Linked DNA regions of Homo sapiens. The protein of the gene in region 1 interacts with the protein of each later gene in a pairwise test. Each region holds a gene or a part of one and is shown on either strand. Other genes may lie near its edges.

Region 1 (8,417 bases):
TATTCCTGTTCCCTTAGATGGGCAGAAAGATTTGAGCCAATGGTTGGATACATGGTCTGGTGTTCAGATGTGAGAGTCAGCCTGGAGATTTGGGCTTCATCATGAAGTTTGGGAATTGACACCCAGAGAATGGGTGAGGTTGCACACCAAGGCAGAGAGAATTGAGGGAGACACGAAGAGGAGGGCCTGCAACCTGTGGACGCCAGCAACATGTTGGAGAAGAAGCTCTTACAGGAAAAAGAGGAGGCTGGGGTTGTGATCACTGATCACAGGCTGGGTGGGCTACAAGAAGGAGGGATTGGCTAGGTGCAGTGGCTTGCAGCTATAATCCTGGCTACTCAGGAGGCTGAGGTGGGAGGATCGCTTGAGGCTAGGAATTCAAGGCTAGCCTGGGCAACATAGTGAGACCCCCATCTCTAAAAAAATAAAAAAAAAATTAACAGGGTGTGGTGGTGCACACGTGTAGTCTCAGCTACTTGGGAGGCTGAAGTGGGAGGATCACTTGGGCCCAGGAGTTTGAGGCTGCAGTGAGCTGTGATTGTGCCACTGCACTCCAGCCTGGGTGACAGAGCAAGACTCTGGCTCAAAACAACAACAAACCCAGGAGAGATTGGATGATGAGCACACATCAGTGGGATTTCCCAGCACGGATGGAGGTCACTGGTGATTCCAGGGTGGTGCCAGCCCTTGGAACGGTGGAGATGGGAAGCAAGTGGGAGGGGAGGAAGTGGGCACAGAGGGTAGATAGCCCATGATAGGGAATGAAGAGATAGAGGTAGCCCAAGGGAAAAGTGGGGTGTTATGGCTTGAATTGTGCCCCTCCAAAAAGACATGCTGAAGTCCTAACCCTGTGAATGTGGCCTTATTGGAAATAGGGTCTTTGCAGCTGTAACCAAGTTAGGAGGTCACAAGGTTGGGCCCCAATCCAACATGACTGTGTCCTTATGAGAAGAGGAAGACGCCACGTGAAGACAGACACGCAGGGAGGGGACCGTGCGACGGTGGAGGCAGACATTGGAGTGATGCATCCACAAGCCAAGGAGCCCCAAGTGTCGATGGCCGCCACCAGAAGCCAGGGAGGGGCAAGGAAGGACTCTTCTCAGAGCGTCAGAGGAGGCGTGGCCCTGCTGAGCTTAACTTTGGACTCCTCGTCTCTAAAACTGCGAGAGGATACATTTCTGTGGTTTTAAGCCACTCAGTTTGTGATACTTTGTTACGGCAGCTGCAGAAAACACATGTGGGGTCAGGGATTGGGTGTGGGTCAGGTTTAAAAAAAGTGAGGGGAAAGGTCCCATCGGGAGGGAGAGGTGAGGATGCAGGGGATGAGGGATGATCTGGGAGTTGCTTGCTTGTCTGTCATAGGCCAGAAGGAGGATGCCTGGTGCAGAGCGAGGAGTGGTGTTGATTTGAAGGCAGGTGGGAAGGAAGTTTCTTTTTAAGGCAGACTTGCAGGTTGGTTGTGGTTTATCTGCCCTTGATTTGTGGTAAGTCCTGGAGCACCACTAGCCCTGCAGTGTAGAGGGGCAGAGAAAGGGGCCAGGCAGCCGGGGAGGAAAAGCTGTCCCAAAGCTGAGTCGGGACAGTGGTGGGGGCTGCAGGAGCTTTGGAGTCTCCTGGTGAATTATGGAGTCTATGGCTCTTGGGATATGGAATGAAGGCGTGCGTGTGTGTGTGTGTGTGTGTGTGCACGTCTATATGTCTCTTTGTGTGCTGGTCTGTGTGTATATGTTATATATATGAACAGGTGCATGTGGTATGTAACTGTGTATATGTGTGCGTGTTTGTGTGTATATGTGTGCATGTCTGTGTACGTGTGTGCATGTGATTGCATGCATGCGTGTGCAAGAGCTTGCAGATATGTGTCTGCATGTGTGTGTCCCTGTGAGTGTGTGCATGTGTGTGTGTACACATGTGATCACTCACAGCCAGGGTGGGCAGACTTGGGGCCTGTGAGTGTGCCCAGTAGGCCAGGCACCAACCCTCATGCCTCTTCCCTTCTCCCCTAGCTGTGCCTGCACGTGACCCTGCCTGGCTTCAGGAGGACAAAGTGGAGGAAGAAGCTATGGCTCCTGGGCTGCCAACCGCCTGTTCACAGGTAGGTAAGAACTTCTTGTTCTAAAAGAACACTGCTGTGCCCAAAGGCTGGACTTACCTTCTTCCTGTGACCTGTCTGGATCATCTCATAGGGTTGGTCTCCATGCTTTCAGGGACTGGGCCTCTTGCAGTGGGTGTCAGCAAGGGAGCATGGGCCATGATCCCACCACCTCATTCAGACCCTCCCCAGGCTGCTGAGCACCAGGAGGGAAAACAAAGCAAGGATGTCAGCTGTCCTCATTTTGTGGTCTTCATGGTCTCACTGAACAAAGAGTTGAGTCATTTTCCAGATAGTTCCCTCTTGCCTGTACCATGCTCAGGTCTGCTGGACCCTGGAGCTAGAAGGGGGACAAATCTGTAAGAGCTTCCTGGCTCCTTGTCAATAGATAAGTCCTGTCCAGAGGTCGAGGACTTGCAACATTAGTTATTGCCTCTTGCTGTTCTTACTTAAGGAGTGGAGAGTAGAGAGAGGAGTTCTAGTTCAGAGTCCTGAGCTAAGGGCCAGATTCTGCGGGATCTCAGAACCCTGTCTGAAAGTCCTCTGCCTGGGTTTTCCCTTCCCCAGGCTTGCCAGCCTCCAGCATCCTCTGGCGTACTGGTGGGGGTGGTCCCTGGCTGAGCCGGGATGGATGTGTGTTTTAGGAACCAGTCACCTTTGCAGATGTGGCTGTGGTGTTCACCCCAGAAGAATGGGTGTTTCTGGACTCTACTCAGAGGAGCCTGTATAGAGATGTGATGCTGGAGAACTACAGGAACCTGGCCTCTGTGGGTAAGGCAGCTTCATCTTTTCTTTCCTTTTTTTTTTTTGAGACAGAGTCTTGCTCTGTTGCCTAGGCTGGAGTGTGATGGCGTGACCTTGGCTCACTGCAACCTCCGCTTCCTGGGCTCAGGTGATCCTCCCACCCCAGCCTCCCGAGTAGCTGGGACCACAGGGTGCATCATCACACCTGGCTAATTTTTGTATTTTTTTGTAGAGATGGAGTTTTGCCATGTTTCCCAGACTGGTCTCGAACTTCTGGGCTCAAGTGATTCACCTGCCTCAGCCCCACAATGTGCTGGGATTGCAGACATGAGCCACTGTGCCTGGCCAAGGCTTTGCCTTTTCATCACATTTATGTACCAACCATAAGCTCTAGAAATTGTGCAAGTCTGGGAAACCTAGTGGTGAAAAAAAAGATAATTCCCACCTTCATGAGCTTCCAGTCTACTTACTGGCCTTTCTATGGAATGAAGATCTTTTTACTGCCCTGTCTTTCTGTGACTAAAAGTTTTTGGGCTTCTCAAAGGTATTCCTTAGCTAGGCCCTTGGTTTTGTAGACCGGAGAGCCTCAGTGTCCTCTGAGACCTAGTGAGGGAACTTGTATTTAGTTGCTCAGTGGAAGAGTTTGGCTGTGGCCATCAGAATTTAGGCACATGCATTTTGCCACTCCCATCTCTAGAGCCCCTAAAGACTTGAGAATATCGGCCCTGGTGTCAGGGCATGGCACAGTCCTCGCACAACATGTGTTTTTTTCTCATGAGCAGCTGATCAACTGTGCAAACCCAATGCGTTGTCTTATTTGGAAGAAAGAGGAGAGCAGTGGACCACTGACAGGGGCGTCCTCTCAGACACCTGTGCAGGTGAGCCCAGGCAGATCAGGTGAGCATCAGCTCTGGTCAGTAAGGGGAGTGTCCAGTTTGGAAACTGTCTTATCAGGGCAACCTATTCATACCTTTGACTGAGAAGCCTGTTTGGTTGAGCTCCCTTATTAAATGCCACCTTCTTTCCTTTTTCCCTTTCCTTTTTAATCTCTAAAACTTTGCATTCATCTCCTAGAAAGATCTGTCCTACTTTCTCTTCATATTTAATATTTCCATGTGTATATTTTATCCATTTCCTCCCCACTGTACATTCTTGCTAATATTTTTCCTCAACATTAGTCACAATCTTTGTAGAATCCTTTTTTGGTAAATTACCTACTATTTCCTTCCCATGTTCCTCTGATTACATAACTTCTCATCTAGCCACACACCTTAAAATTTTCCTTAACTTTTAGATGCATTCCTTCTCATTGCAATTTCTTCCCGTACATAGGACCAGTATTTGGGAAAAAAAGTCCACATGTGCCTTGCCTACTTTTGAGGTGACCTTGATCCCACAGTTTCTTTCTCTGTGTGCTTAACTTTTTCTTCCCTAATTCATTTCAGAACCTCAGTGTCAACCCCAAGAGGCAATTCCTAGCCAAGATACTTTTACAGAGATCCTGTCCATTGATGTGAAAGGGGTAAGGCTCACCAGGGATTATTCATGGTTCTCTATAGTAGGATGAGTCTGGGGTTAACCGTAAGTTAGAAAAGCAGCCCAAGAGCCAAGAGCGATTCGAGGCAAGAAGTGTTTACCCAGAAGGAAGCAGTTTCTTGGGAGAGAGTCCGTGAATGTCATGAATTGGTGGAAAACTAAATGTAGATCATGTTCGTACAAGTAAGCATTTTCACAGATATGACACATACAAAGTGTTTAAGACTTAATTTAGCCTTACACAAATTGGAAAAATTCTGCATCTAAGAAGCTGCATGAAAATAATGAAAAGATAGCTCTTTGCAACAGAGTATCCACCCTATTCCACTTGAAGGAACTCTGGATAGAAATGGTATGGACTCCATAAATGGTAAAAGTATCAGATATAGAACTGTCTTTTTCTTACATTCATTTCACATAGGGGAGAATATCTGTGAATCTAATAAGGCCTTTGGTCTTCACATTTTCCTTCATCGACAGGAGCAACCTCAGCCTGGAGAAAAACTCTATAAATATAATGAACTTGAGAAACCTTTTAACAGCATTGAACCACTTTTCCAGTACCAGAGAATTCATGCTGGAGAGGCATCCTGTGAATGTCAAGAGATTAGAAATTCCTTCTTCCAGAGTGCCCACCTAATTGTGCCCGAGAAAATCCGTAGTGGGGATAAATCCTATGCATGTAACAAATGTGAAAAATCCTTCAGATACAGCTCTGACCTTATCAGGCATGAGAAGACTCATACTGCAGAGAAGTGCTTTGACTGTCAAGAATGTGGGCAAGCCTTCAAATATTCCTCGAATCTCCGGCGACACATGAGAACCCATACCGGAGAGAAGCCATTTGAATGTAGTCAGTGTGGGAAAACCTTCACGAGGAACTTTAACCTGATTTTGCACCAGAGAAACCACACAGGAGAGAAGCCCTACGAGTGTAAAGATTGTGGGAAAGCCTTCAATCAGCCATCATCCCTCAGGAGCCACGTGAGAACTCACACTGGAGAGAAGCCCTTTGAATGCAGCCAGTGTGGGAAAGCCTTCAGGGAACACTCTTCACTGAAGACACATCTGCGAACCCATACCAGAGAGAAACCATATGAATGCAACCAGTGTGGCAAGCCCTTCCGGACGAGCACTCATCTGAACGTGCACAAGAGGATACACACAGGGGAGAAACTGTATGAGTGCGCGACTTGCGGTCAGGTCTTGAGTCGTCTTTCAACCCTGAAGAGTCACATGCGAACTCACACTGGAGAGAAGCCCTATGTGTGCCAGGAATGTGGGCGAGCCTTCAGTGAGCCCTCATCCCTCAGGAAACATGCAAGGACTCACAGTGGCAAGAAGCCCTATGCATGCCAGGAATGCGGGCGAGCCTTTGGTCAGTCTTCACATCTTATTGTACATGTGAGAACACACAGTGCCGGGAGACCCTATCAATGTAATCAGTGTGAGAAAGCCTTCAGGCACAGCTCCTCACTCACTGTACACAAAAGAACCCATGTGGGAAGAGAGACCATTAGGAATGGCAGCCTGCCTTTATCCATGTCTCATCCATACTGTGGGCCCCTTGCTAATTAACTTCCATTTTGTAAAAATATAAACACATGGGGCTATGACTTTCCCTCGTAATACTCCTTTAGCTGCATCCTGTGTTTCAATGTATAATATTTTCATTTTGGTTTAATTGTAAGTATTGTCTTAACCTCCATTATCGTTTATTCTTTGACCCATCTATTATTTGGAATTAGATTTTTCAAAACTAATATGTGGATATATTTTCATAGAGGTATAATGACTTATAGTGAAATGCATACATCTGAAGTGTACAGTTGGATGAGTTTGACAGATGCATACATGCATGTAACCACCACCCCATTCCAGATATAGAATGTTTCTATCTCTCTGGAAGGTTCCTGCATGTTATATGGCTATTTCTTAGTTGCCTTTTTGTTGTTGGTTTCTAATTTAATTACATGGTGAGAAGAGTATGTGGCCTCTTTGTTACTGAGTCATAGGTATTTGCTGAGATTTGCTATTAGGTCTGGTGTGGCTTATTCTTCTAGCTGCCAACCCAAATTACCCCTTCCTCCTTAGAAAAGAACCTGGGTTTTCTGTTCAGATTGGCAGTGTGCACTATTAAAAAGCTTCCATCTCCCGGCTGGGCACGGTGGCTCATGCCTCTAATCCCAGCACTTTGGGAGGCTGAGGCTGGGGGATCACCTGAGGTCAGGAGTTCGAGATCAGCCTGGCCAACATGGTGAAATCCCCTCTCTACTAAAAATATAAAAATTAGCCAAGTTTGGTGGCATGCACCTGTAATCCCAGCTACTTGGGAGGCTGAGGCAGGAGAATTCTTTGAACCCAGGAGGCAGAGGTTGCAGTGAGCCGAGATTGCGCCACTGCACTCCAGCCTGGGCAACAGAGTGAAACTCTGTCTCAAAAATAATAATAATAAAAAAAAGCTTCCATCTCCCAGCCCTTCTTGCAAGCAAGGGCAGGCCATTTCCTCCGGTCCTGGCTAGTATGAATATGAGAAGTCACTGGATGTGACTCTGGGGAAGATATTGTGTTCAGGGATGGTTTCATGTAGCCACATCTCTCCACTTCTTGCCTTTTGGACAAGTAGACATGATTTCTAGACCTAGAGGAGCCCTCCTGTGACCATAAGGGTAAAAGCCGCAAGCTAAGAAGAGGGTGGCCGGAAGTCATAACCATCTTGCTTCTGTAATCTAAAAAATATTTAGGATAGATTTAATAGAATTGGCATATTTATGTGATTGCAGCAGCCCTGGACTATTTATTTCTGGATGTCCCATACATGAAAAATATGCACTTCTTACTGGTACAGTTTTCTTTTGTTTGTTTTTGTTTTTGGTGGGAGGTTTATTTCACCTGAATATAATTCCTAACTGATGCACTTAGTATATGTCAGTTTTTATAAATGCTTCATGGATGGTTGAAATCAATGTATTGTATTCTACAAATGTCTGCTAGATCAAGCAAATGTGTTTAAAAACCATCTACACATTTATAAATGTTGATCTGTGATCTAGCATTTATTGAGAGAGGTATGTTAAACTCTCCCACCATGATTATGTATTGCTGAAAAATCTTTGTCATTCTGTCAGTTTTTAAATTTATGTATATACATACATATATATGTTTTGAAGCAATGAAATTAAATATAGATACTGACATTTTTTACATTTCCAACAAATTGTTACTTTTATTCTTATAAAGTGATCATCCTTTTCCCTATTACTGAACATTCAACCATTCATTGTAATGATAGTAAATACTTATTTAGAGTTTACTATTAATAGATAGTAGCCACTGCCTGAAGCTTTGCATCTTTTAATTTAGTCCTCACACTGACACTTTGAGGTATGTACTGTTATCCCCAATTCCCAGATGAGGAAGCTGAGGCCCAGCAAGTTAAGGTGGGCTATCAAAGTCATCTGGGTGGCATGTGACAGGCCTGACTCTCTCTACAGTGGCAGACCCAGGGGACTAGTCTCCATTTTTACTTGTTCTTTTTTTTTTTTTTTTTTTTTTTTTGGTTTTAAAGTTCTCTTAGGTATAACTTACATAAACGTTAATAAATCTTAGGGTACACCTTGGTGAATTTTGTATATGTCTATACCCACCACGGTCTCCATCAAAATATTTTATCGTCCCAGAAATTTCCCTTGGGCCCCACCTCATCCTCAAAGGTTATCACTATTCTGATGTCTATCACCATAGATTTGTTTTTCCTGTTCATGTAAATGGAACCATAAACAGCCCTCTTGTGTCTGTTTTCTTCACTTAATATAGTGTCATTGAGATTTATCTATGTTGTATTATCAGTAGTTTATGCTTTTTAATTGCTGTGTAATAGTCCATAGTCTGAATATACCACAATTTAAAAATTCTATTCTGTTTACAAACATTTGAGTTCTGTCCTCCAGGTTCATCCATGTTATCACAAATGACAGAATTTCCTTCCTCATCAAGGCTGAATAGTATTCCATTGTGTAGATATACCACATTTTCTTTATCCATT
Region 2 (7,871 bases), on another chromosome or scaffold:
TCCCCGACTACCCTGAGAGGTGGGACTGGAACCCAAGGCTGTGCTGTGAGTGTGAGCCGCATTCTCCAGTGGGGAGGGCCAGGTCCTCTGCAGAGCTAAGGAGGGCAGTCTCTTAGCATCCCCAGAGGGCCAGCTTTGTGCTAGAATAAGGTCAGAAAGAGACCACTGAGCCCCAATCCCCTCTTTTCTCTTCTGACTATTTCTGGTAGTTTTTGGCCCATTTAGTCACATGGTGGGATTGCCAGCCATTGTGCGTTGAGGACGTATCAATAGAGGCAAGATTCACTAGGAAAAGGAGAAGACCATGAGCTCTGCTCCATGTCACTTGGTTCCTGCTTCTCTGGGGGCATCCAATTCCAGCTTTTGGAGAGAGCAGAATGGTGATTATTATTATGGGAAGGGACCTGGACACCAACCATGGCTTGGGAGGGACAGTGGGAGTGAAAATAGGCTCTGAAGCCACAGGGATGGAGGTTCAGATTCTGGCTTAGCCACCTAATAGCTGTGTGAGTAGGTGACTTCATCTTTCTGGACCTCAGATTCCTCTTCTGTAAAATGAGAGTGATAATCTGTGCCTCCTGGCCTGGCTGCGAGGATGCAGTGACATCTTTTAAAGGTAGGCGGTAGAAGGTGTTCAGTAGCTATAGTTATCACAATTAGCCGGTAGGCGAAATATCTGAAGCGCTGTCTGGAGGCAGAGGAGCAGGAGTGTTCTCCTGGAGTTTCTGAGTCAGGGAGACAAGGTGGAAGGGACCTCTGATGGACAGATCTGGACATGTGAGCAGATGCAGGATGTGTCTGGAGGAGGTCAGACTCCATGGGGAGGGTCACAGTGGATGTCCTTGTGATCCTTGCCTGCCTGGGAGCTATCTCAGGAGCCTGGCCCCTCCCTCACAGCCACCCTTCCTCTCCATCTCTCTATCTCCTACAGGTGCTGGGCCCCAAGCCGGCTCTGCCTGCAGGTACCGAGGACACCGCCAAGGAGGATGCGGCCAACCGCAAGCTGGCCAAGCTCTACAAGGTGAGCACCAGATGCACTGTCTGCCTGGGCATGGGGTCAGGACAGGGAGGTGGAAGACTTGGTCTTCCCCACTCCACTGCTATGGGACCTTGAGCAAAGCACCCCTTTGGAGGGGGGCCTCAGCTTTCTCACGTCTCCAGTGGATGCTCGTGTACTTCCTTTGCTTTCCTGCACTAAGAGCATGCGATCAACTCCGTACATATCTGTGTCACGCTCATACATGAGGTCTCTCTGAGTCTCAGTGTCCTAGTCTGTAAAGTGGGAAGAAGAGCAGAATGGTCGACTTTGTAGGATTTCTGGGAGTCCACAGATAAAATGGATGTGAAAACAGCTTAGAAAATACTTGGGGAAATACTACAGAAATGGTGTGTATGTGGGGAGGTTGGGGGTGTGGGTTATAGTTAATGACTTTATTTATGATTTCTTTCTTGTGATTTTCACAACTGAATTCAGGCTTAGCTTCAGCTAGGGAACTCTCTTGGCTGAGCTCTGGGAGAAAGCTCAATCACACTTACGTTGTGCCCCAAGTATTTTCAGTAAAACAACAAAAAGGGGATGTCGATTTTCACCACTGCCAAAGAAAAACTACTACATTATCGATTTTTTTTCTGATTATGAAGTAATACATGTTTATTGTAAGAAAAAAAAGTATTCAAAATATAAAAAGAAAATAAAAGTCCATGCAATTTCACTGGTTTAAAAAACCAGTATTACTTTTAAAATATGTTTTAATTACAAAAATGACAATACCCAGTTAAAAAATCAGCCTCTCCTCCTCATGAGAGAACACATCTTTGTCCAGCCACAGCTTTCTGTGCCTAGTTACTTTTCCATTTCCATCTTATTATTTTATTTTGAGATAGGGTCTTGCTCTGTCACCCAGGCTGCAGTACAATGGCACAATCACAGCTCACTGCAACCTCTGCCTACCGGGCTCAAGCGATCTCTTGCCTCAGCCTCCTAAGTGGCTGGGACTACAGATGTACGCCACCACGCCCAGCTAACTTTTGTATTTTTTGTAGAGACGAGGTTTTGCCATGTTGCCCAGGCTGGTCTCAAACTCCTGGGCTCATGTGATCTGCCCACCTCAGCCTCCCAAAGTGCTGGGATTACAGACCTGAGCCAACGCTCCCGGCCATTTCTATTTTGTGTAACTGGATCCAAACTATTCATGCTGTTGTGTGGTCTTTTTTCCACTCAACATGGTCGGGAATATCTTTCTATAATAAATCTCAACACGACCCTTTATAACAGCTGTATAGTATTTTATTTTATGAATGTAAGAATTTAAGCAAATCCTGATTGATGGACATTAGGATGTTCCACCTTTTCCAGTTGCAGACAGTCCCTCTTGGTGCACTTGTGCTAAGTACAGCATAGCACTAGGGCAAGTTCCTAGACAAGGAACTGCTGGTCACAGGCCGAAGAATGAGTCAGTAGTTGAAAATACTGGTTCTGGGCCAGGCATGGTGGCTCACCCCTGTAATCCCAGCACTTTGAGAGGCCGAGGTAGGCGGATCACCTGAGGTCAGGAGTTCGAGACCAGCCTGGCTAACATGGTGAAACACTGTCTCTACTAAAAATACAAAATATTAGCCAGGCGTGGTGGCGGGTGCCTCTAATCCTAGCTCTCCTCCTAAGGGAGGAGAATCACTTGAACCCGGGAGGCGGAGGTTGCAGTGAGCTGAGATAGTGCCATTGCACTCCAGCCTGGGCGACAACAGTGAGACTCCGTCTCAAAAATAATAATAATAAATAAAATAAAAAAAGAAAATACTGGTTTTGGAGTCAGGAGTCAGACTACCTGTGTTTGAATTCCAGGTCAGCTATTTCTAGCTGTGCAAGTTCCTTAACCACTCTGTGCCTTGGTTTCCTTGTGAATGAGACAGGGATAGTAACAGAACTATCATATGCAAGGATTAAAGGGGTTCTATAATTATACAAGTTATAGAAATTGCTTAGAACAGTGACTGGCACAGAGTAGTAAGTACTCAATTCATGTAGAATAATTATTATTTAAAGGACTGCTACCTCACAGTCAACTGTACTCTGGAACAGCTCCCAAATTACTGTCATCAGGGATCTTAAATGCCTGTTTACCCAGAGCCTTGCCAACTGGATATTGTTAAACTTTTGAATTTTGACTCTTAAGATAGAACTTTTTTTTGAGCTTGGTTGAACTTTTTATTTTAGAATAATTTTTAAGTTTACAGAAAAATTGTAAAGATAGTACAAAGAGTTCCTATATACCATTCACTCAGCTTCTCCTTAGCATCTTAGCATAACCAGGTACATTTGTCAAAACTAAGAAATTAACATTGCTTCAGTACCATTAACTAAACTATAGACTTTAGCCAGATTTCCCCAGTTTTTTATTCTAGGTTCCAATCCAGGATACCAGATTGCATTTAGCTCTTTTTACTTTTCTTTTTCTTTTCTTCTCTTTTATTTACTTATTTATTTTTGAGACAGAGTCTGGCTCTGTTACCCAGGCTGGAGTGTAGTGACGCAATCATAGCTCACTATAGCCCCGACATCCTGGGCTCAAGTGATCCTCCCACTTCAGCCTCCCAAGTAGCTGGGGCCACAAGCAAGCGCCACCACACCTTGCTACTTTTTGTATTTTTTGTAGAGATGGGATCTTGCCATGTTGCCCAGGCTGGTCTTGAACTCCTGGGCTCAAGCCATCCACCCACCTGGGCCTCCCAGAGCGCTGGGATTAAAGGTGTGCGACACTGTAACCGGCCTCTTCTCTTTTTTTTGAATAGTAAAGTTGAATACATTTTCAGCAAACTATGCAGTTCCCCTCTGCACCCAATTCCCCAAATTTTATCCCGCCCTCCCTTCCCATGTGCAGTTTGTGTTACCCCTGCGTGTAGGTCAGCAGATGTGGTTCTGACAAAGCAGAAAACGAAAAAGAACCTCTAAATGTGTGCGAGAGGAAGCCCAGGTGTTACTCTACAGGGCCATTTGGGACAGGGGGTGGGGCAAGATGGTGGAAGTCTCAGGGCTGGGCGGCCACAGACACTCATGTGCTGGTTCCTTCTGCTTCGTCCCCTCAGGTCTCCAATGGTGCAGGGACCATGTCCGTCTCCCTCGTGGCTGATGAGAACCCCTTCGCCCAGGGGGCCCTGAAGTCAGAGGACTGCTTCATCCTGGACCACGGCAAAGATGGGAAAATCTTTGTCTGGAAAGGTACTGGAGACAGGGAAAGGGTCCCAACTGGCCTGTAGGATCTTGGATGGGATGTTCTGCAGCTCCCAGGAACTCAGCTCCCGGGGAGTGTGGAGTGTGCCTGGTGCAATGGAAATCAGAAGTCTTGGGCTGAGGCCTTGGTTTTGCATTTGACATACTGTGTGATCTTGGGCACTTTACTTACCCTTTCTGGGCCTCAGATTCCTGATCTGGGCTAAAATGGGTGTTTCCCAAGTGCATTATAACGTCAGTTCTCTGAGAGGCTAATTGGCATCCTGTAGAAATTATGTAGAAAACATCTAACTGTATGGTCAGATAAATTCATGGGCAACAGTGGATTTTAAAATGTTCGAGTTTGTTTACTGTAGGACTTTTAACTTGTTCATTTACAGGGGGGCTTTTCATGAAGATGATCTGGTTTGGGAAATGCTAAGCTAGAAGTTCATAAACTCTTTCGGTACTATCTTGTGGGAATTCTCTTGGAAACCATTGGCCCAGATGTTTCCCAGAGGCCCTGAGATGTTCTGAGAGGACCCATCAATATCCTCCCCTGATTCTCTAAGGCTCATCTTGGGGAAGAGGACAGAGGAGAGGGAGGCAGTAGGAGGACAGAGAGAAAGGGAGACGGTGGGGAGAAAGAGAGAGAGAGAGACACTATTATGATTATTACTCTCTAGGCCCCCTGGGCCCTGGGCCAGCTGATCTGGACCTTGGCCTTGGCAGTGAGAAGGCTGGGACTGAGGCCCAGCACTGGCTGGCCAGGAGCTCCTTGGCACGGGAATGCCCTCAGGGTGGCAGCTTCTCACTCACTGAGTAACCTAGGTCAAGTAATTTAATCTCTCTAAGACCCTAGCTTCCTTATAGATACTCAGAAAAAGATAACAACTTTTTTTATTACTTAAGACTATTCTGTGAATTAAATAATCTATGCATAGTTCTAAGCACAAAATACATGCTCACTAAATGGACCACAGTAGTGTTGTGATTGGTGTCACTGGCCAGCCCCAGGCTGGACACCAGGAGCTCTAGTGAGTGGTCGGCTCTGGGGGTCTCTGGCCTTGGCTGTCCACAGTCTAAGAAGAGTAGGGAGGGAAGTTTGGCAGCTCCTTCTCCTGGACTGTTAAAGGTCAGGATGCAGCAGGATCCCGGGCCTCTAACCCTCCATCACTTCCTCTGGCTGCCAACAGGCAAGCAGGCAAACACGGAGGAGAGGAAGGCTGCCCTCAAAACAGCCTCTGACTTCATCACCAAGATGGACTACCCCAAGCAGACTCAGGTGAGTCTTGGAGGCCAGGTAGGATGGGAAGGGGTGGGTCCTGTTTGGAGGGGATGGGCTGGAGTAGGGCGGGTGTCCCACCCTCAGTGTGGATGGGGTATCTGAGGCTCCCCTGGGGACCCCTGCTGGGCAGCCCAGCCACATCCTGCTCCTCTGCCTCCCCTCCCCAGGTCTCGGTCCTTCCTGAGGGCGGTGAGACCCCACTGTTCAAGCAGTTCTTCAAGAACTGGCGGGACCCAGACCAGACAGATGGCCTGGGCTTGTCCTACCTTTCCAGCCATATCGCCAACGTGGAGCGGGTGCCCTTCGACGCCGCCACCCTGCACACCTCCACTGCCATGGCCGCCCAGCACGGCATGGATGACGATGGCACAGGCCAGAAACAGGTACGTTTAGGGCGTGGGGTGGGTGTGTCCAGGCCCCTCCCTCACTTTCCCCATGCACTGCCTCTTGCTTCCCCAAGGAGGTTTCTCTCTGAGGTTTGCACAACTTTGGTAGCTGAGATTCTTTGGTGTTACTTAGTTTTTACAGCCAATGCACCCTGTGTATCAGGCCCTGAGCCAAGTGTCTTGGCCCCACCTTGCCCCGAGGAGTGCCTGGTCTGGGAGGGGAGTTGACCATAGCCACAGACCTGTGTGATCAGTGGAAGATGGGAGGGAGCACAGGGGATTGTGCAGACACAGGAAGCAGTGGGGGTGGTTGGTCAGGGCAGCCTGCACAGAGATGGGAACCTTTGGGTTGGGTCTCAGAGGAGGAGTAGAGCTTTGCTGCCGGAGAGGAAGAGCGGAGAGTGATGGGCATTCCAGGAGGGACTCGCTATGTTCGGAAAGGAGGGAGCTATCCCAGGGGGCTAGTGCTGATGGCATCCCCAGGGAGGGGCCTTGAATGCCAATTTCAAGGGTGTAGACTTGATCCTCTAACCAGTGGGTGCTAGTGAGGGGTTTTTCTTTTTATTAAATCAGACATGCAACAGGCTCAGATTTATGCTTTATCTTTTTTTTTTTTTTTAATAGAGACAGGGTCTCGCTATGTTGCCCGGGCTAATTTCAAACTCCTGGGCTCAAGCAATCCTCCTGCCTCGGCCCCCCAAAGTGTTGGAATTACAGGCATGAGCCACTGCGCCCGGCCACCTGCTTTAGAAACTCACTGTGAAAATGGGTTGGAATATGACTCCAGGATATCATTAGAAGAAAAAAATCAGTTAAAAAATAAATAAAAGAAAAATAAAAAGAAAACTAAGAAAATGGATTGGAGGCAGGAAAATGAAGGTAGAGAGCTTATAAGGAGCTTGTTCTAATACTGTAGGGGAAAGATGATGACCTTGAGACTAAGAAGGTCACAGTGGAGAAGGGGAAGAGGGGTGTGGGGTTCAGAGGTGTTTAGGAGGTAGAATCCGCCTCAGGCAAACTTGACTCCGTTCCTAATGATAGGAATAACAAAGTGTTCATTTTTATATATTATTGTTTTTGGTTTGGTGCTAGCATTCATTTGTTGCTTCAGTGGCTAGGGAGAATGCAATGAAAATATTTCGGGTGGGGCGGTGTGGTAAGACCCCTGGCAGCCTGACTGTGAGACTTTGGGCAAGTTACATAACCTCTTTGAGCTTCACTTTCTCACTTGTAAAGTGGGGTTTCATCCCACTCCATCACCTTCAAGAATGTTCAAAATCCAGAGATTCTAGGATTCTGTTTCCCAGGACTTGGACGACTCCGTGTCTCCATAGCTCCACCAGGTGGCGCTGCCGGGCCTCGTGACCACTTGGAAAAAGCAGTGTCACCAGAACGCTGCGGAGACCTGCCAGCAGGGGTCACACTGAGGTTGCCTCGTGGTGTCCCTGCCTCTGCAGGTGACCTATGAAATTCCTGGCAGGCCCAGCACAGTGGCTCACGCCTGTAATCCCAGCACTTTGGGTGGCCGAGGCGGGTGGATCACCTGAGGTCAGGAGTTCGAGACCAGCCTGGCCAACATGGTGAAACCCCGTCTCTACTAAAAATACAAAACTTAGCTGGCCATGGTGGCAGGCACCTGTAATCCCAGCTACTCGGGAGGCTGAGACAGAAAAATTGATTGAACCCGGGAGGCAGATGTTGCAGTGAGCCGAGATTGCGTCATTGCATTCTAGCCTGGGCAACAAGAGTGAAACCTCGTCTCAAAAAACAAAAAAAAAAAAAAGAAAAAAAGAAAGAATCCAGGCAGCTCAGTAACAATAGAGGTAATGGTGATATTAGTAAGATAATAATAATAATTATGACAATAAGAGCAGCTGCCACCTACAGAGCAGTCCCTTTGTGCCGGGCCCTGTGCTAGACTTTCACGAGTAATCTCGTTTGAGCCTCACAGTACTTTGAGGTAGGTACTATGATTATCCCCATTTTTCAG
Region 3 (7,871 bases), on another chromosome or scaffold:
CCTGTTCCATTCCTGGCTCCATTTGCAGCCCTCCTTTCAAAGTGTGGGGTGGATACCTTTGTTAGGCAGAGCCTAGCACAAGTGGTCCTCCTTACTGCAAGGGAGTCTGGGAAAGCAAGTATCCAGTGTTTTCAGCTTTTATAGTGGGTGGTGATTTCTGCCAGAAATTGTAACAAGGGGACAAGGGGTGTTTCAGATTTGGGGCAGCCAAAAAGCGAGCAAAATCCATCTTTGAGGTGAGCATTTAGGCCAATAGAAGAAAGTAGATTTCAAGTGTTAGGAACAATAGAAGCCCAGGGTAGAGGTTGAATAGAGTATGGCATTTGAGCCCAGTGGAAACAAGTTTAACTGGATTAAAGGGTGTGCTCTGGGAAAATAGTTTGAGAAAAGTTGAAGGAATAGGATGGGACAAGATTAAAGATTACTTTGAAAGTCAGGCAGAGGAATTTAAATTTCATATGGGAATGTTGGAGCCAGTAAAAGTTTTTGAACAAGAAAGTGTCCTAAAAGGAAATGGTACTTAAGGATTATTAATCTGGCAGCACTTCTAGGGGTATCTAGGCATTTTCTGTCATAATTTAGGTGTGGGGTGATAGATTGGGAGTAGAAATAAAAGACAAAGATTGTATTTAAGAGAAGATTTGAAGGAAAAAAATCAATAGGACTTCTTGAAGAGAAAGAAGTAGAGGCTATTTCTGAAACTGAGCTTGAGTGACTGATCCCACTCTTCATTTAGAGCTAGCAAAGCTGAGGAGGGACCCAGTTTGGAGGAAGCAGAAGAATGAATTTTAGTTTGGGAATTGCTGAGTTTGAGGTGAGAGATATTGAGTAAAAGTGGTCCCTGTGCAGTTAGAGTTGGGGACCAAGAAGTGGAAAGAATTGCACTCAGGCAGAAAGGCTGTGAAGGGAATGGAACAGAGTGTGCCAGAACCCTCAGGGTGTTTCTCAGCTCTTGTTTACGGGCCACCAGGTATACTATCTTGAATTTAATTTTAAGTGATACGTTTGAACCACAACCTCTACCTTTTGTTTCATAAAACGTCAGTTCTCACACCCTAAGACACATTGATGCAAGCTATCGATGCTATTACTATTTTACATGGTCTTCTTCCTGTTATTCTAATATATTTGGAAAGAAAATGATTAATACATGTGAGGCTTTTCTTGGTAATTTTCAATACTTTTGAATGTTTTGAATACAAGGAGAATAATATACTAAAGCTAGAGACCTTAAACAAGACCGAGAAAAGACTGCATATAAAAAGCAAACCTCCAGTTCATTAAAATTGTAAGTTGGAGCTCTTGGCTCCATGGCAGGGAGCCTTGGATCAGTAAGTATAACAGCTCCCTTCCGTATTGTACTTAGAAAAGAATGATCATAAAACCTACTTAGGCCTCACAAGGTCTTTTTGAGCCTTAGCCAATGCATTTAGTCACTGTCAGTAACCACAAGCTTTAGTATAATATTCTGGCTTGCAAAGCAGCCAGGTCTCCAGAGCATGACGATAGGCTCTTCTATACAACTTGAAAGCTGTTGCTGAGGCATACCTTCTTGATATTCCTCTTAGCACTTTTCTCTAGTCTATAGCAAGTCTGTACCTGTAGATGACAGTGGATTGCTCAGATATTATTAAAGAGTATGCAAGTATCTTAACAGGAAACAGCTTACCCTTTGGGTAATGTGTGATACAGTGAAGAAAATCCCTTAAATGGTTGCCCAATATTTATGCTGCTGGCATGTTTGCTGGGATATTTTTTCTCCTCTGAATTAGTATTTTGAGTCCTTGGGCTCTTCAGTTTAATAGATAATGTTTCTATGTTTAAGTGTAGAAGATCCACCATGTTAGCTGAAAAGTTCCAAGGCTTTTCTGTCTCTGTAACATTTCTCTGCCTAAAGAGGTAGCAGGTTGAAAATTTAGGAAATAACTTTGCGTCAAAAAATTCATCAGCCTTTCTAATCAATTCGATTTTAAAGTGAAACAGTGATGAACTTTGCATTTATCAGAATTCATGTTTTTCTCATGGATTTAACAGCCCTTTGCAACTCTGCTTCCTTGGTTACATGATAGAAAGAGTATCTGATCACATCAGAATAAAATCGTTTGGGAAGACATCCGTGTGTCATAGATTATGTAGCTTGCAACAGGATTTAAAGCAAAAAGATGGTAGAATATCGGATCTATCATTATTTTTGCAGTGAATGTTTCACCAGCTGGTTTGAGAGAAGTTTTACACCCCTACCAGGCTTCCTCTTACCTCATTTACCGCAAAAACCACAAGTCCTAACAGGCAAACTGTAATTGCCTAAAACAAAACTAGTAAGGTATAAATGCATGTGGAAATGATTATTTGAAGGCAAAAGGCAAATAAATGTCACCAGTCTGAGCCATGACCTAAGCATCCTAGGTCTAGTAACCATTCTTTTGGTAAGGGATAATGCCAACTTTTTTATCAATAGGATTCTGTTAAAAATACAAAGAAAAACAGTCAGCAGGATACTGTATCTATACACATACATATATGTATATACACATATATGTATATATATGTATGTGTATATATAGATATAAAATACTTTTGTTTCATTTTAGAGCTGGTTGAACTTCAGTGGTGGGTAGAGCTTGTTTTTAATTTATATAATTTTTGTAGTACAATTTTAAAATATTATTTTTTTAAATGAATCCAGGAGCTGTGCGGTCTTATGCATTGGAACTTAATTTGACAGATTCAGAAAATGCCACTTGCCTTTATGCAAAATGGCAGATGAATTTCACAGTACGCTATGAAACTACAAATAAAACTTATGTAAGTATATATTTTAATTTTTCTTTGAGTTTTATAGTAGGAATTTAATTGACTTTATCCTTTAGATACACGTATACAAATGAAATTCCACGTTGACTGACTTAATGCTGAAACTCTGGGATTTTTTTTAAGCATACACACTCAGAAGTTATTCTGTTTAGTGTTAGAATGAATATTTCTTCTGATTCATTGGTTCTTGGGAGTTTTTGTAGGACTTGATTAAGGGCAAATGATCTGAAGACGACTATATGGTGTTCAGGTCTAAGTATTTCTGTAAAGTGTTTAAAATGTACTAGCACCAAAGCTTGCCCTTTTAAAAAGCAGCTTCCCATCTGGGCATGGTGGCTCATGCCTGTGATCCCAGCATTTTGGAAGGCCAAAGCAGGAGGATTGCTTGAACCCAGCCCGGGCAACATGGTGAGACCTCATCTCTACAAAAAAACTTTAAAAATTAGCCAGGCATGGTGGCACACACATGTACCTCCAGCCACTCGCTGGGCCGAGGCTGGAGGATTGCTTGAGCTCAGGAGGTTGAGTCTGCAGTGAGCCATGATTGTGCTACTGCACTCCAGCCTGGGCAACAGAGCGAGACTCTATCTCAAAAAAAAAAAAAATCGCTTACTTAGGTTGGTACAAAAGTAATTGCCATTAAAGGAACAAACCACAATTACTTTTGCACCAACCTAAGTAAGCGATTTTTTTTTTTGGCACAAACTGCAATTACTTTTGCACCAACCTAACACTAAAATCTCCCCCTTTTTGACATCTCCTCTTAATTCCTTTGCCTTCTTATTTTCTTTTTGTTAAGGTCCTCACTACTTACAACCTAATTTTTTAAAAAATCAGTTTAAGAACAGCAGCTCAAGCCAGTTTTCCTTTTCTTTTTAGACATACACGAATTTATCCAGAGGAGTGGTATGTAGCAGAAGAATCAGGGACTGGTTTACACAGCAAACCAGGCAAAGGGCAACCTGGCCATGGAGAATGTATGATTTAGGCTGAAGTGGCATGCCCTACATAAATGCTTGGTGTTCCTTGCTGCCTGTTTGTTTCTCACCCCCAAATTTCTATTTCTTTTAGAAAACTGTAACCATTTCAGACCATGGCACTGTGACATATAATGGAAGCATTTGTGGGGATGATCAGAATGGTCCCAAAATAGCAGTGCAGTTCGGACCTGGCTTTTCCTGGATTGCGAATTTTACCAAGGCAGCATCTACTTATTCAATTGACAGCGTCTCATTTTCCTACAACACTGGTGATAACACAACATTTCCTGATGCTGAAGATAAAGGTAACCTTAAGAATGGATTTGTGTTATGTTCTCTTGCTTTTTATTAATGATAAAAATGTAAACAATTTTAAAATTGTTATGAATGTCTGTCTTCCTAACTAGCATGGAAACTTCATGTCTTTATAACCCTCCCACTGACCCCATGCATGGCACATATGACACCATCCAACATACTGATGATATTTGCTGTCATTGCTTGAGTGACTTACTGTATACCAGGTATTATCCTAGTATACAGTAAGTCACCTTACTATATATATCCTAGTATACATATATATGTGTATATATATACATATATATGTATATCCTAGTATATATGTATATATATATATACACATATATCCTAGTATATATATACACACATATCCTAGTATATATGTATATATATATCCTAGTGTGTGTGTATATATATATATATATATCCTAGTGTGTGTGTGTGTGTATATATATATATATATCTCCTAGTATACAGTAACACACCTAGTGTGTTACCTGCAGCATCTCACTTAATTCTTAACAGCAACCCTGGGAAGTAGATGTTGTTTCATTTTTACAGGTAAAGGAAATGAGGCTTGATAAGATTAAATGACTTTTCCAAACATCACACAGTCTGGTAAGTGGGCGAGCTGGTGTTTGAAGCAGTCTATTGACCTGCAGAATTCATATACTTAACTATTATTGATTTCATTCAGTAGTGTGCATGAAACAAAGGTTTGATGAATGAGAAAATGCTTTACTAATAGCTACTTTATTTTCAAGATCGGGGGTTGGGGGGGGTGTCTCACTATGTTGCCTAGGCTGGTTTTGAACTCCTGGATTCAAGCGATCCTCATGCCTCACAGCCTCCTGAATAGCTGGGACTACAGGCATGCACCACTGTGCCTGGCTACTAATAGCTATTTTAAATGTGTAAAAGTTAAGTAACCTGAGACTAGGAGAAATGCCTCTTGTTCAAATCTTTTTATCATTTAGGTTGGATTTTGATTGAAAAGTAAATGATGATTAGTTAAAGGTGTAGTAGTCCCTCATTACACTCAGGGGGTATCATTCTAAGATCTCCCGTAGATGCCTAAAACTGCAGTTACTACTAAACCCTATACAGGAAATGCTATGTTTTTTTTTTTTTTTTGATCTGATAACTGACATGGCTACTAAGTGACTAACGGATGGATAGTGTAGACAACGTTGATATACTGGACAAAGGGATGATTCATGTTCCTGGTTGTGCAGAGCGGGACAGCAAGAGATTTAATCATGCTACTCAGAATGGCGTACATTTTAAAACCTATGAATTGATTACTTTTGGAATTCTCCATTGAATATTTTCAGAGCTCAATTGACCATGGGTAACTGAAACCAGGGAAAGCAAAAACCGTGGATAAGGGGAGACTAAAGTCAACATTTGCTGTTATTTTAAGACAATTTCAGGTCAAAATGAACTTGGGAAGCATTGGCAATTAGGCCATTCTAGTAATTCCCAGAACTGAAATGCGTGTTAAAATATTTTGAAGATATAGAGTGTAGAGATTTTATTTTATTTTATTATTTTGAGCTGGAGTCTCGCTCTGTCGCCCAGGCTGGAGTGCAGTGGCCTGATCTCGGCTTACTGCAACCTCCGCCTCCCAGGTTCAAGCAATTCTCCTGCCTCAGCCTCCTGAGTAACTGAGATTACAGGTGCGTGCCACCACGCCCGGCTAATCTTTGTATTTTTAGTAGAGACAGGGTTTCTCCATGTTGGCCAGGATGGTCTCGAAATCCTGACCTCACGATCCACCCACCTCAGCCTCCCAAAGTGCTGGGATTACAGGCGTGAGCCACCGCACGTGGTCGAGATTTTAATTTTGTTAGGGATATAATTCTCTTCTTTCTCCCCCTGCCCGTTGAGATTGAGTTAATGTGGTATTTGTAGTAGCTTAGCTCTTTGCAGATAGTGTTTCATTCTGACCCCAGAAACAGGTAGATGGGCTTTAGTTGCCTAGACCTGGGGATTAATAACTCATTTGGACTTAAGGATGTCAAAAGATCCTATTCGAAAGAACCAGAAGTAAATAAGCTCACGTAAAATTTGGGAGGTATTGCAGAATGAGACTTGGAAATCAAATCCTAGTGTTCTTTTTACTAATCTCTTAGTTTGAGAGTATAACTAAAGCAAATGGTTATTGGCTATCTTATCAGTTTATCTTTGTGCCCTGTTTTGCCTTTCAGAGCTAGTATAAGATATGCCCCTCACTTTCAAGTAGCCTAAGAATGAGCTGGGGAGACAAAGCTAAATGCTATTCCCGAGTTACATGGAAAAATTGGAAAACATTGAGCTCAGTCTGATTTTGTTGTTGTTGTTTGCGTTTTTGTTTGAGGGAGTAGAGGGTTCATAAATCTCTTCTGACAGTGTGAGGAAAACTTTAGACTCCCTCTCAAAAAAGAAAAAGTACACAGTAAACTTTGCATATGGAACATAGTCCCTGAACCCATATGTAGATCCCTGTGGTTAAGAGTGCCTGATTTAGGTCGAGAATGGTAGCTCATGCCTGTAATCCCAGCACTTTGGGTGGCCGAGGCAGGCTGATCACTTGAGCCAGGGAGTTCAAGACTAGCCTGGGCAACATATTAAGACTTTGTCTCTACAAAAAAAAAAAAAAAAAAAAAGCCAGGTGTGGTGGCGTGTGCCTGTGGTCCCAGCTACCTGGGTGGCTAGGGTGGAGGATCGCTTGAGCCCAGGAGGTTGAGGCTCCAGTGAGCTGTGATCCCACCACTACACTCAGCCTGGGTGACAGAGAGAGAGAGACCCTGTCTCAAAAAAAAAAGAAAAGAAAAAGAAAAGACTGGCTGATTTAAAAGTGTTCCCGTGTTCCCACAAGTGGTCCTGATTAGGAGGAGTGATAAAGGAAGGCTCAGTGTGTGTTAGAGTAGTGAGAAAGCTTGGTAGAGAAGTAGGACCTGAGCTGAAACTCAGCTAATGGTAGAATTTGAGTAAGCGGAGGATTTTGAGCAGGATGTTTCCAGCAGGGGGAAGCATAGCATATGCGGCAGTAATTGGAGAGCTGCCTGATTAAATCAGGCTGTGTGTGTAGCAGAAGGAAAATAAAGTTGGCTAAATGAAGTGGGCCTAAATTATAGGGGGCCTTGGAAGCCAAGGAAAGACATTTAGCTTGATGGGGCAGGCACTGGGGAATCATTTTAGGTTTTTAAAGCAGGAGAATGATATAACAAAAGCAGAGACAGTAGCTTATAAAGAATATTCTGCAGGATTAGTTGAGAAGTGAGGAGGCTACAAGCAGAGATGCTGGCTTAAGAAGCTGTTATAGTAATCAAGGGCTGATGTAATAAATGCCTGGACTACAGGGGCATCAGTTGTTAGCAGTTATTAGGAGGAGGTGTTTAATCTGACATATTTGGATAGAAAAACTATGGACCCTGAAATGTTAACACTTCTCTCTTTCCCCTTTTATTTAAAACAAAGGGAGGATTACTTTTTAAATTACTACCTTCTATATAATAATATTTGAAACTATTTGGAATGTTAAATGGCTTCCTGAAATGGACTATTAATAATTGTTTTTGATATAGTTCAGTGTTTCAAGAATACTAATTTATGGCTGGGCGCAGTGGCTCACACCTGTAATCCCAGCACTTTGGGAGGCTGAGGCTGGTGGATCATTGGAGGTCAGGAGATTGAGACCAGCCTGGCCAACATGGTGAAACCCTGTCTCTACTAAAAATACAAAAATTAGCCGGGTGGTAGTGGTGCGTGCCTGTAATCCCAGCTACTCAGGAG

The links. The genes of interacting proteins can lie anywhere in the genome.
Region 2: the proteins of ZNF333 (region 1) and GSN interact in binary tests that used the Homo sapiens proteins (3 or more experiments, as listed by UniProt).
Region 3: the proteins of ZNF333 (region 1) and LAMP2 interact in binary tests that used the Homo sapiens proteins (3 or more experiments, as listed by UniProt).

Annotation. Positions count from the first base shown.
Region 1 is NC_000019.10:14,713,376-14,721,792, forward strand, and holds part of ZNF333 (zinc finger protein 333), read left to right. Parts: intron 1-2,006; coding exon 2,007-2,095; intron 2,096-2,736; coding exon 2,737-2,863; intron 2,864-3,618; coding exon 3,619-3,714; intron 3,715-4,281; coding exon 4,282-4,358; intron 4,359-4,793; coding exon of another isoform or gene 4,794-4,852; coding exon 4,853-5,950; 3' UTR 5,951-8,417. UniProt on the Homo sapiens protein: May be involved in transcriptional regulation.
Region 2 is NC_000009.12:121,313,003-121,320,873, forward strand, and holds part of GSN (gelsolin), read left to right. Parts: intron 1-931; coding exon 932-1,021; intron 1,022-4,083; coding exon 4,084-4,216; intron 4,217-5,403; coding exon 5,404-5,492; intron 5,493-5,662; coding exon 5,663-5,878; intron 5,879-7,871. UniProt on the Homo sapiens protein: Calcium-regulated, actin-modulating protein that binds to the plus (or barbed) ends of actin monomers or filaments, preventing monomer exchange (end-blocking or capping).
Region 3 is NC_000023.11:120,451,585-120,459,455, reverse strand, and holds part of LAMP2 (lysosome-associated membrane glycoprotein 2 isoform A precursor), read left to right. Parts: intron 1-2,686; coding exon 2,687-2,805; intron 2,806-3,885; coding exon 3,886-4,099; intron 4,100-7,871. UniProt on the Homo sapiens protein: Lysosomal membrane glycoprotein which plays an important role in lysosome biogenesis, lysosomal pH regulation and autophagy.